Linked DNA regions of Homo sapiens. The protein of the gene in region 1 interacts with the protein of each later gene in a pairwise test. Each region holds a gene or a part of one and is shown on either strand. Other genes may lie near its edges. The genes, in order: SFXN1, STOM and TLCD4.

Evidence for each region.
Region 2: the proteins of SFXN1 (region 1) and STOM interact in binary tests that used the Homo sapiens proteins (3 or more experiments, as listed by UniProt).
Region 3: the proteins of SFXN1 (region 1) and TLCD4 interact in binary tests that used the Homo sapiens proteins (3 or more experiments, as listed by UniProt).

What each region holds. Positions count from the first base shown.
Region 1 is NC_000005.10:175,509,560-175,513,059, reverse strand, and holds part of SFXN1 (sideroflexin-1), read right to left. Parts: intron 2,952-3,500; coding exon 2,853-2,951; intron 1,610-2,852; coding exon 1,534-1,609; intron 950-1,533; coding exon 864-949; intron 1-863. UniProt on the Homo sapiens protein: Amino acid transporter importing serine, an essential substrate of the mitochondrial branch of the one-carbon pathway, into mitochondria.
Region 2 is NC_000009.12:121,353,229-121,356,962, reverse strand, and holds part of STOM (stomatin), read left to right. Parts: intron 1-806; coding exon 807-910; intron 911-2,289; coding exon 2,290-2,362; intron 2,363-3,660; coding exon 3,661-3,734. UniProt on the Homo sapiens protein: Regulates ion channel activity and transmembrane ion transport. Regulates ASIC2 and ASIC3 channel activity.
Region 3 is NC_000001.11:95,144,691-95,148,424, reverse strand, and holds part of TLCD4 (TLC domain-containing protein 4), read right to left. Parts: intron 1-3,734.

The DNA.
Region 1 (3,500 bases):
CAAAGTGCTGAGATTACAGGTGTGAGCCACTGCGCCCAGCAGACACATCTATTTTTAAATACCATGGATAAGTTTAATCCTCCTTTGATAGAAATAAAAGTAAAACAACACTAGTAAACTTTTAAAACAGGGTGTACCTTTTTCAGGAACAATATGATTCAAAGGGTGGACACACTAACTTCAATCTATGCTCATGTGCAAATTTGAGCAACTTTCCAAATGAGAAACAGATATAATACACAGCATTATTAAGTCAACAAACTTAATATGCTGACATGGAAACAGTCACTCGCACATGGCCCTACTGTATATTTATTAACTATATTTACTAACACTAAGTATAACTTCTACCGTTACCCCTGTTTTTCGTTATCCATTCCAAAATGCTTTTGTTGTTCTTTCTTCTCCTTTAATTTTTGCCAGTTCTACAACAATACTTCCAAAGATATAGAATAATGTACTTTAAGCCCCAAAAGAAAATTCTGGAGAAAAAAAAGGAATCTATTTTAGAGAATAAACTTTCTTTGGATAGACTTTGTCCAACCCAAGCACAACTCAATGTAAGCTTGAGATATATCTTTTAAACTTTTTATTATACGGACATAGAAAGACTATTCCAGCATCAGCCCCCTCCCCGCACTCCTCAGTCTGCTTCAATAATCAGTAACTCATCGCTAAGCTTGTTTTCTCAAGACGCCCATCCTCATCCCCAACCCCAGAGTATTTCAAAAGAAATCCAAGATCTCATATAATTTCACCTATACATATTAAAACAAGCATTTGAAAGTTTCAACAAAGCTAATTATTACAAGAGACTCTCCTGTCAAGCACATGTCCCTACTAAGAGTGCATATTCGTCTTACCTTTGCCTCATTAATGGAATATTAATGCAATTAGCAGCAGCTACGGCAGCAAAGGGAACAAAACGTCCTATCAGTGGTGAGACATGCTGCAGAGGAGAAAATTTCAAGAGCTTTATCTTATTTTTCCTGTACTAGTAAATGGAAATAACTTATTTCTTCTTGAAAACTCTGAAAAATGCAGAGTCCCATTTGCATAGAAACTCAGGCCAAGAATGCTTTCAAAACTTTTCCTAGCAGTATTTGTATATTTCCCACATGGGTGTGCTGGGACCATGCAAGCTTCTAAGGCCTTGTAGCTAAGTGTGGTTGCAGGAGTATGGGCTTTGGAGTGGGGAGAGAGAGAGAGAGAGAGAGATGCTCTTGCCTCTCTTCAGAGCTGTGGCCTGAGGCACACTGCCCTCTGCAATGCCTCTGGTGGGCTGTCAGGATGGGTGAACATTTAGCACTTCGTACACAGAGTCAGGCACAGACCACAGTCCTGGTAGGTGTTACTGGTGACAACTCTTCCCAAACTTATTGGAAGATATAACTAAAATATGCAGCTGAAGATAAGCACTATAACAAGAAAGCCATATGACTTGAACTAGTTTAAGAAATAATAGAGGGATTTAGAGCCAGGCAGGTGATAACAAATTAAACAGCTTTATTATGGAAATAAAAATCTGAGTACCTTGGTCAATGCATTGAGTCCTAGAGCTGTTGCTACGGCACCAGTTGTTGCAGAAACGTAAGCTGTTCCCAACTCACTGAAAAGAAAAAAGGATATCGTGTGGACGACGAGGGCATGTCAGGAAACTCTGGTGCAACATTATTTGAAGAAATAAAAGGGAAATATAAAAGAGCATGATTCAGAATGAAGAGTCTACAAAACAACATTCACTATCACTCCACAAGTAGGGGAATCTAGAGAAAAAGCAAGCAGATCCATAAACAATGGGATTCTTCACACGTATCTTGACTATAACTCCAAAAAAGTAGACATGTATTCTTTGAAGTGAGTTGGTTAAAATAAATAAATAAACATACAGACTTTGTATTCGTGAGAAGGAGGGGAGCTGTGTGTAGGAAGCTATGAATACAGGGGAATGCATATTGGGCTAAATGTTTGGGGCATATTTGCTTAAAAATATTTCTCAAAATATTAATATACACACTGAAAGCAAAAATGAAGTGCTGCCATTTAAAAAATGATATCTTAACTGTATAAAAATACTAAGTCTTATCATCCAAAAACTATAAAGCCCAAGCAATTCTCTCTTCTTTTAAAAGAAATTTTAATTGCAATAAACACCACTTGGCTGCAGATTTCAAGATCCTTTGTTCCATATAACAATAGTAGAAGAATATGTGTTGTCAAAAGCAATTTTAAGTGATAAAAAAGAGAAGCACTTTTCTTTCAAGTGTAATACAATTATGCTAACTAACGTTTTTGGTTAACTAATCTTGTGAGCCTATTTTTTTTTTAACAGGTGACAAAAAATTAAAACTCATTGCTTTCTTTTGGACTCCACAGATGAGCTATTTTAAAAACATATCAGATATAAAGTTCACACCGCCATGGTCTCCCCTTGATTTCTGCAGAGACCACACTTTGTCTCCTCTACTCTTAACGTTGGTGTCTGTCAACTCAGGCAGGGTAGATGGCGGAACAGCCTGTCACTTATCAGAGGCCAGGCCGGTGCTGCCTGCCATGTGTTCTACAGGGCCATGAGCTCCAGGGTGAGAAGGAGGTAACATCCTACCAGTACCTCCAAAGGCACGAGTAATGTCTGAGAAGGCAGGCTGGAAGAAGACTGTTTTCTTGATAGGGAGAGAGAAAATGAAACACTTTACTTTAAAAAAGAAAAAAGCTACAAAAAAGGATGCTACATAATATTCTGAACAATATAAAAATATGCACACATAGGCTTTTTTAAACAGGAGAGTATCACCACTTAATAAAATGAAGGTTGAAGAACTGCAGAGAGTGGTCAATTCTCGTAGCCTTACTTGACAGTGAGGGGTGCGTCTCCACTTCTGTTGGTGTAATTGACGACGGCATTGAAGGACTGGTTAATCCACTGCCAGAACAGCACAGCCGGCGTAGTCCTAAAACAGAGGCATCCGTCACATACCCACCATCACTGGGCCCAGCCGCGGCATGGAACAGAAAACGTGAACACCAGTAACCAGAGAGGAGACGTACTGGGGAAGGGAGAAAGCCATAAGGCCACACAGGCTTAGGATCTGTGTGCTGGGCAAGCTTTTATCCTCTGGGATCATCAGTTTCCTCATTCCGTAGATATAGATAACACCAAGCTCAGAGGGTTACTATGAGGATGAAGTAAGATAAAATTTGTAGAGAGCCTGGTACAGAATAGACATTCAATAAATGCCAGATCCCTTCTCTTGGGGAAAAAAGATACAATTTGTAGGCTAAGCGGTCCTGGGCCCTCCTAACAGCACTTGCAATGCTATATGTCTATGTCTACACATACACCTTTAATGTGCCTATATCTACACTTATACCTATACCTATATCTATATGAATGGAGTCAAAGGAGAATTTGCCTGCAGACTCTTTATTTTCCTTCTCCACTTCATTCTCTTTTGGGGCTAAGATTTAGAAAAAAAATTCAACCTCCTTTTGAACAACTA
Region 2 (3,734 bases), on another chromosome or scaffold:
TGCCCAGGCTGGAGTGCAGTGGTACAATCTTGGCTCACTGCAACCTCCACCTCCTGGGTTCATGCAATTCTCCTGCCTCAGCCTTCCCAGTAGCTGGGATTACAGGCACTCACCACAACGCCTAGCTAATTTTTGTATTTTTAGTAGAGACGGGGTTTTATCATGTTGATCAGGCTGGTCTTGAACTCTTGACCTCAAGTGATCCACCTGTCTCGGCCTCCCAAAGTGCTGGGATTACAGGCGTGAGCCACGACGCCCAGCCTCCACTTTCTTTTCGTCGATATTTTCTTACTATTACATCCTTCAGGAAACCCTCTGACAGCCACCTGAATCACCTCCCCGCCCCATTCCTTTCTCACCTCCATCCTAACTGCGTGAGTTAACTCATTCTGTGTCTTCAAAATATTCTGAACAGATACTCTATATCTGTACTTACCACCTAATATTATAATTATGTGTTTGTCTGACTTTCCCACTAAACTTTAACCCTGAAAGCTGGGATTGGGTCTTACTCATTGTTATCATTTCAGTACAAAGCAGAGGGCCTAATAAATAGTAGATGCTTAATAAATGTTTGCTGAATAAAGTAATGAGTAATGTGGAAATATACTTGTGTTATGACATCACATAGATAAGGGAAAGTAGTACTTACACTTCAGGGCTGTATGAGGATTAGATGGGGAAATTCATGTAAAACAGCTGGTGTAGTGCCAAGCACATAGGTATTCAGCGAATGGTAAGGATGAAGATGGTGGTGATTATGCTAGTAACAGTTGTGAGAGTTGTATATTTTTTGTTTTCAACAGACAGCCCCAGTAAGGGCCTTGGACCTTGCGGATGGATTTTGGTGGCGTTCTCATTCTTATTCACCGTTATAACTTTCCCAATCTCAATATGGATGTGCATAAAGGTAAAGAACATTTCATTCACTTCTGGGAAGGGGTCAACTCCTACCTCCATAAACCTACTTCGTGTGTGCCTGTGTGTATGTGAGAAAGAAACAGACTGTCTCTCTCTCTTATAATTCTTATTTCTTCATCTTTCTTTGGAAAATTTATTCTTCTACCCACCTATTAAAATGGAACCTTAAAACTTCTTTTCAGCCATTGCCCTTCCCCGTGGGCTAAAGTAAGTTTCACCATCAAAAATTTCCTGGGGCCAGGGATGTGAGATGGTTCTGAGAGAACAAGTTCTTCAGAGTTAGGATGATAGGGTTTGACTGCTGGCTTTACTGTTTATTGTGTGACCTTTGCTGTTTCCTCACCTGTAAAATGGGAGAAAGTAACAGTACCTACTTCATAGGAGTGTTGCGAGGATTAAATGAATTATGTGTCTAAATGTACTTATCACAATGCCTGGCACGTCATAAATACCCTCAGTGCTCGTTATTTTTTCTACAAAGTTGTTAATACTTTGATATATGACTATTATTTACATATTTCTAAGAAGATAAAATATGCTCCAAGCATTTTCAGATCAATTTATTCTTAAGGGAATCAGAAGAAAAACTGTGAAGACTTCAGCTTTTTGTGTTTCTGAATTAACAATGCATGAGTAATTTTTTTTTTTTTTTTTGAGCCAGAGCCTTGCTCTGTCGCCCAGGCTGGAGTGCAGTGGCGCGATCTCGGCTCACTGCAACCTCCGCCTCCCAGGTTCAAGCGATTCTTCTGCCTCAGCCTCCCGTGTAGCTGGGATTATTATTATTATTATTATTTTTTTTTTTTTTTTTTTGAGACGGAGTCACCTTGTGGCCCAGGCTGGAGTGCAGTGGTGCGATCTCGGTTCAAGTGATTCTCCTGTCTCATCCTCCCTTGTAGCTTGGATTATAGGCACCCACCACCATACCCGGATAATTTTTGTATTTTTAGTAGAAACAGGGTTTCACCATGTTGGCCAGGCTGGTCTTGAACTCCTAACCTCCGTGATCTGCCCACCTCGGCCTTCCAAAATGCTGAAATTACAGGCGTGAGCCACCGTGCCTGGCCTGCATGAGTAACTGAATAACAATGTTAACAGCTGAGGAGTGAGGTTATGGATTTGTTTCTGTATACTATTCTGTCCTTCCTAAATTTATACAGTGAATATCTATTGCTTTTGTAATCAGTAAGAAAATAATAAATAAGCTTTGAGAAGGTAAACATTGGACATGTGATTTATAGATATGATCTGGTTCTAAAGAAAAAAGATGAGGCATCTAATCTGTTTAGAGCAGAAATATATATTTAAGAAGCCATGCATGTATATATTTGTACTCTTCATGTTAAATTATTATTCATGTTTTTATTCTAGATTATAAAAGAGTATGAAAGAGCCATCATCTTTAGATTGGGTCGCATTTTACAAGGAGGAGCCAAAGGACCTGGTCAGTACTGGGATTCTAGATTGTTTATCTGAAAACTAAAGTTCTTTTTATTTTTTTTATTTTTAGGTAGTTGTTTTTTTAAAGACAGGGTTTCATTCCGTCGCCCAGGCTGGAGTACAGTGGCATGCTCATGTCTCACTGCAGCCTTGAACTCCTGACCTCAAGCAATCATCCCACCCCAGCTTCCCAAAGCACTAGGATTACAGACGTGAGCCACCGTGCCCAGTCTAAAATTTTTTTATTGACGTGATTTCCCTTATGAGGGCCTCTTCTACTCTGTCTTAGATAAGAGTTCATGTAGCAGGAGTTGTATAACAATAGCAGTGGTTCTAGCCAATCTTTTGTTACCCTTTCCTTCCTACCCTTCCCCTCCCCTTCCCATTTGAGCTGATAAGATTACCACCTAGGCCAAGAACAGTACAGCTATACAAGTTTGAGCATGAGAATCTCTACCAAAGAAAGACTTTCAGTCATTCATTTGGCAAACTTCAATTAAGCTCCTACTGTGTTCCAGGTTCTGGGAATTCAAGGGAGACTAAAACACAGTCCCTACCCTCAAGGATCTTCCTATCTAGTGGTAGGAACCAACAAGGAAACAGATAGCTACAATCCTATGTGATAAGTATTATGATCAAGTACTCACAGAGAGCTGTGAGAAAAGAGAAAACCAGAGAAGTGTTACTGATCTGAACTAGTCGTAGGCTGAGTCAAGGCTTTCTGGAAGTTACATCTTGACTGAGTCTTGAGGTCTGAAAAGGTGTTAACCAACAGGAGGTGTTTGCGGCGGAAATAGCAACATACACAAAGCAACAAAGAGGAGAGTATTGCAGATTCAAGAAACTGCAAGTAGATCAGTCCAGCAAGAGTGCAGGGTGTGAAGAGAGAGGAAGTGGCTGAAGAGGGGAACAAAGGCGGGTTATGCAGGACCATGCGTGGGGGAGGGTTTGTATTTTAGGGGGGATTGCTCGGCTTGCAGCTTAGGAAATAGATTATAGGAGAGAAACTACAAAAAATAGAAAGATGGCCTGGGAAACGATTGCATTGGTCCCAGTGGGGCGGTGGGGAGAAGAGTGATAGCAACAGTAGATTAAGGAAATGAACTCCACAGACCTTAGTGGAGACAGTCAAATGTGGGAAGTAAGCAAGAGGAATCAAAGTTATCATTCCTGGCTTCTGGCTCATTCACGAAGATGAACTGGTGACTTTTCAGTTCACTAGGTTGATTTTCTTAAAACTGAATGGAGAAGTGAACTGATTAGGTTGCTGGTGTCTGTATAATGTGTGTATCTTTGTTGCAGGTTTGTTTTTTATTCTGCCATGCACTGACAGCTTCATCAAAGTGGACATGAGAACTATTTCATTTGATATTCCT
Region 3 (3,734 bases), on another chromosome or scaffold:
GATAAATGCATACATGATGATGCAGCTGACAGACTTTTGTGCAGCCAGATGGCAACTGGCAAGGCCACTACCCTTGGCTCCAAGCTCCAGCCCCAACAGCATCAATGCAGGATAAGTTTCCTGCTCCAATCAGCTGGGAATGACTTCCAGATCTACTGGCTTTAACAAACTCCATATCCTTAAAACAATTCGAATGGATCATGATATGAAGATTTATTATCTTGGGAGGCTTCAGTTTTTAAAGTACGTTGACATGCACTATTGCACTTGATTCTTGTAACAAATTTGTAAGAAAACAAGGGTAGCTATTATTAGTCCCTCTTTATCATTATTATGAAAACATTTCTAAATAGAAAAATTGAGGACCATAAATGTATACGGAAAATTTGTTTTTAAAAGAAATACCCAAGTGAAAGCACAATGTTCTCAAGATCCAGGTCAAGTTTTCTTGTATAGAAGGAATAAGTTTAACATAAAAACCATAAGTTTCTATGAATATATCTTGTTAATAAATTTAATGATGTGACTAATTCCCAAGCTCTATGTTACTTAGAGAACTATACTTAGGATACTGTGTATTCATCCATACAATAAAGTTTTTTTACCCAACAATTTCAGATTTCTCACATCTTTATTGAGAAGTTCACAAGTAATGAAACTTCATTAGGATAAAAAATGAGAGGTACAGCAAAGTTTTCTCTCTAAAAATTACTGGTGTGCAATAAATTTTTCTCTACAATATGATCCCAAATCTTTAAAAGTAAAATATATCAACTAATATTAGGTTTGGTATCAGAAAATTTCATTGTAACTTTAGAAACCAATATACTTGACCTAATAGTGTGTTACAAAATAGATGTATCATGCTAAATCAAGCCATATTTTAAATAAGCAAAGATTCTCACCAATTTAAAGGCATTGACCAAGTATCATTTATAATACCTAAGAATCATTTTGAAATGTGAATAATTAATCCAATTTATCTGGTTTACAAGTCTATAATTTTCATGCCAAGCACACCTTGAGCACAGGATAAAAATGTAAATTCCTTGGCCGGGCATGGTGGCTCACACCTGTAATCCCAGCACTTTGGGAGGCCAAGGTGGGCGGGTCACCTGAGGTCAGGAGTTTGAGACCAGCCTGGTCAACATGGTGAAATTCCATCTCTACCAAAAATACAAAAATTAGCTGGGTATGGTGGTACACACCTGTAATCCCAGCTACTCGGGAGGCTGAGGCACAAGAATCACTTGAACCTGGGAGGCAAAGGTTTCAGTGAGTGGAGATTGCACCACTGTACTCCAGCCTGGGCAACAGAGCGACACTCTGTCTCAAAAAAAAAAAAAAATTAAATTCCTTGATATAAAATAAAATACTCCATTTAAATGGTCATACAGCCCACTCTCTATTGCTATTCAAAAATTATATAAAATTTAAAAATATATAATCTCTCTTACAAACTTGTTTTACTGTTTGGTAACCATAGTCAGAAAGCTCCCTTTTGAAAAACCTAACTTTTTATTTCTGACACTCAGGCCTCAGATTCACTTCTCTTTTGAGATGTTATGTGGTAAATGGAAAGCATTCTAAGCCCTCAGCTGATGGAAATGGTGTATGATTCAGTACAGAAAAGTTAAATATTACTTGGTCCAATCAAATATCTCCCTCTGTAATGAGGAGGAAAAACAAATACCCTGCCCTCACTCATACACTATTCTGTATTAAAAGTCTATACTATAGTTTCAGAAACTTCTGTTAATAAAAATTTTATATTTTATTATTTAAAATCAGATTCCTAGCAAAGGAAAATTTAGATTCCTTAGTATCTAAAAAGAAATTCCAAGATATTACCCAAGATAAAATATTTCAATTTTTTTTCAAAGAGGGTGGAAAAGAAATGTTTGTGCATATAAAGGGATAGCACTCTAAGGAAATGATTAATGACTATTTTAGAATAGCAATTTTAAGTTACTAATCACAAGTAGTGTAAATATTGCCAACAGAAATTATATAACTCAGCTAAATTTTAGAGAAACATTTAAAAATTAGTAGTATTTCAACACAATAAGACTTTCAATGTGATAGGTAAGAAAGTGAATATAAGTAATTAAGAAAATTTTTTTACATTATAAGATGTAGCACCTGTAAGTATACACGTTTTCAGAAAAAGTAACAATTCAGTACAACAATTTCTCACTTTTAACTAAACTGTTGTCTCTCAAATGGGCATTTCCAGTGATTTTTTCTCCTCCATTTCTTTTTATACTAGATGGCTCAGACCACTCTCAACTCATGTTTAGAGACTCTTTCCTGATCACTAGAAAGAATTATGTGTGTTTACCTGTATGTTTCAAACTGGAAGCTGAATTTTAAGACATTTATACATATTTTACTCAAAATACAGCCTCCTTGTCCTACTTTGCACTCTCCACCTTACAGCTTAAGTCCTTTGTAAAAAAAGCTGGAGTGAGAAGCAGGAGCAAACTTGAGAAAAAGAGAAAACACCACTGAATACCTAAATGAATTTTATATAATCCCAGACTCCTTTTTCAAATAGAAATTCAGTTTCCCAAATGGTATTTCCTGTGTCATAGAATGGCAGTGATAAGACTAGATAATGCAAAATATTCTTCAATTTCATTTCATTTTCATCTTGGCTTCCATCTCTCTGTACCCTTTCCTATTTCTCTGACTTGCAGCTACCTAACATTCAAATGCCTTTACCTATCCTAACCACAGGAAAGAGGAAATGAAAATAGTTCAACATTTAATCAGAGAACGTATGTACCCCCTTCTCTTTCCTACCATTCCATCTATCTTCATATGTTAGAAAAGATTTTTTAAAGTAATGGTATCTCTAGTATAATGCATTTGAACAATATTTTTGTGCTAGTCTTAAGACAAAATAATCATACTGCTTATTTTTTGAAAATATGTGGAGAAATAATTCTTGCTTTTTGGGTGAAAAGAACTTTGACATGTATGAACCCGATACATCACTGTAAAGTACAAAAAAAAACAACTAGAGTCTTATTAAATTCACAGTCTGAATCATAAAAGTAGATGCCTGCAAAACAATTTGGTTCAAAGGGAATTTCAAATCAAATATGACCATTCTCAAATAAATACTCAGACACTGACAGAATTTCTTGAATTTTAAAAGGAAATTTCAATGAAAGATAATTATAGCAAACTTTAGAGACTTGCTGAATCCATTTTATGGTTAGTATTAACTTCAACTAAATAGCAACAACAAAAAATAAGGCCACGGCTGCTCTGACTCACTGAGGTTTACAAATGCACAGTGATGTTTGGGGACATAAAATGCTCTAAAGCACGTGAAGAAGTCATCAGAGCCATTTTGTGTTTGAAATCTTGTGAGATTAATAAGTTGTACACACACAAAAAAATTGCAACCAACTTTTTAAAACTCTGGCAGGGTGCAGTGGCTCATGCCTGTAATCCCAGCACTTTGGGAGGGCAAGGTGGGTGGATCACCTGAGGTCAGGAGTTCAAGACCAGCCTGGCCAACCTAGTGAAACCCTGTCTCTACTAAAAACACAAAAATTAGCTTGGCATGGTGGCGCATGCCTGTAATCCCAGCTACTCAGGAAGCTGAGGCAGGAGAATCACTGGAACCTGGGAGGCAGAGGTTGCAGCGAGCCAAGATTTCACCACTGCACTCCAGCCTGGGCGACAGAACGGGACTCTGTCTCAAAAAAATAAATAAACAA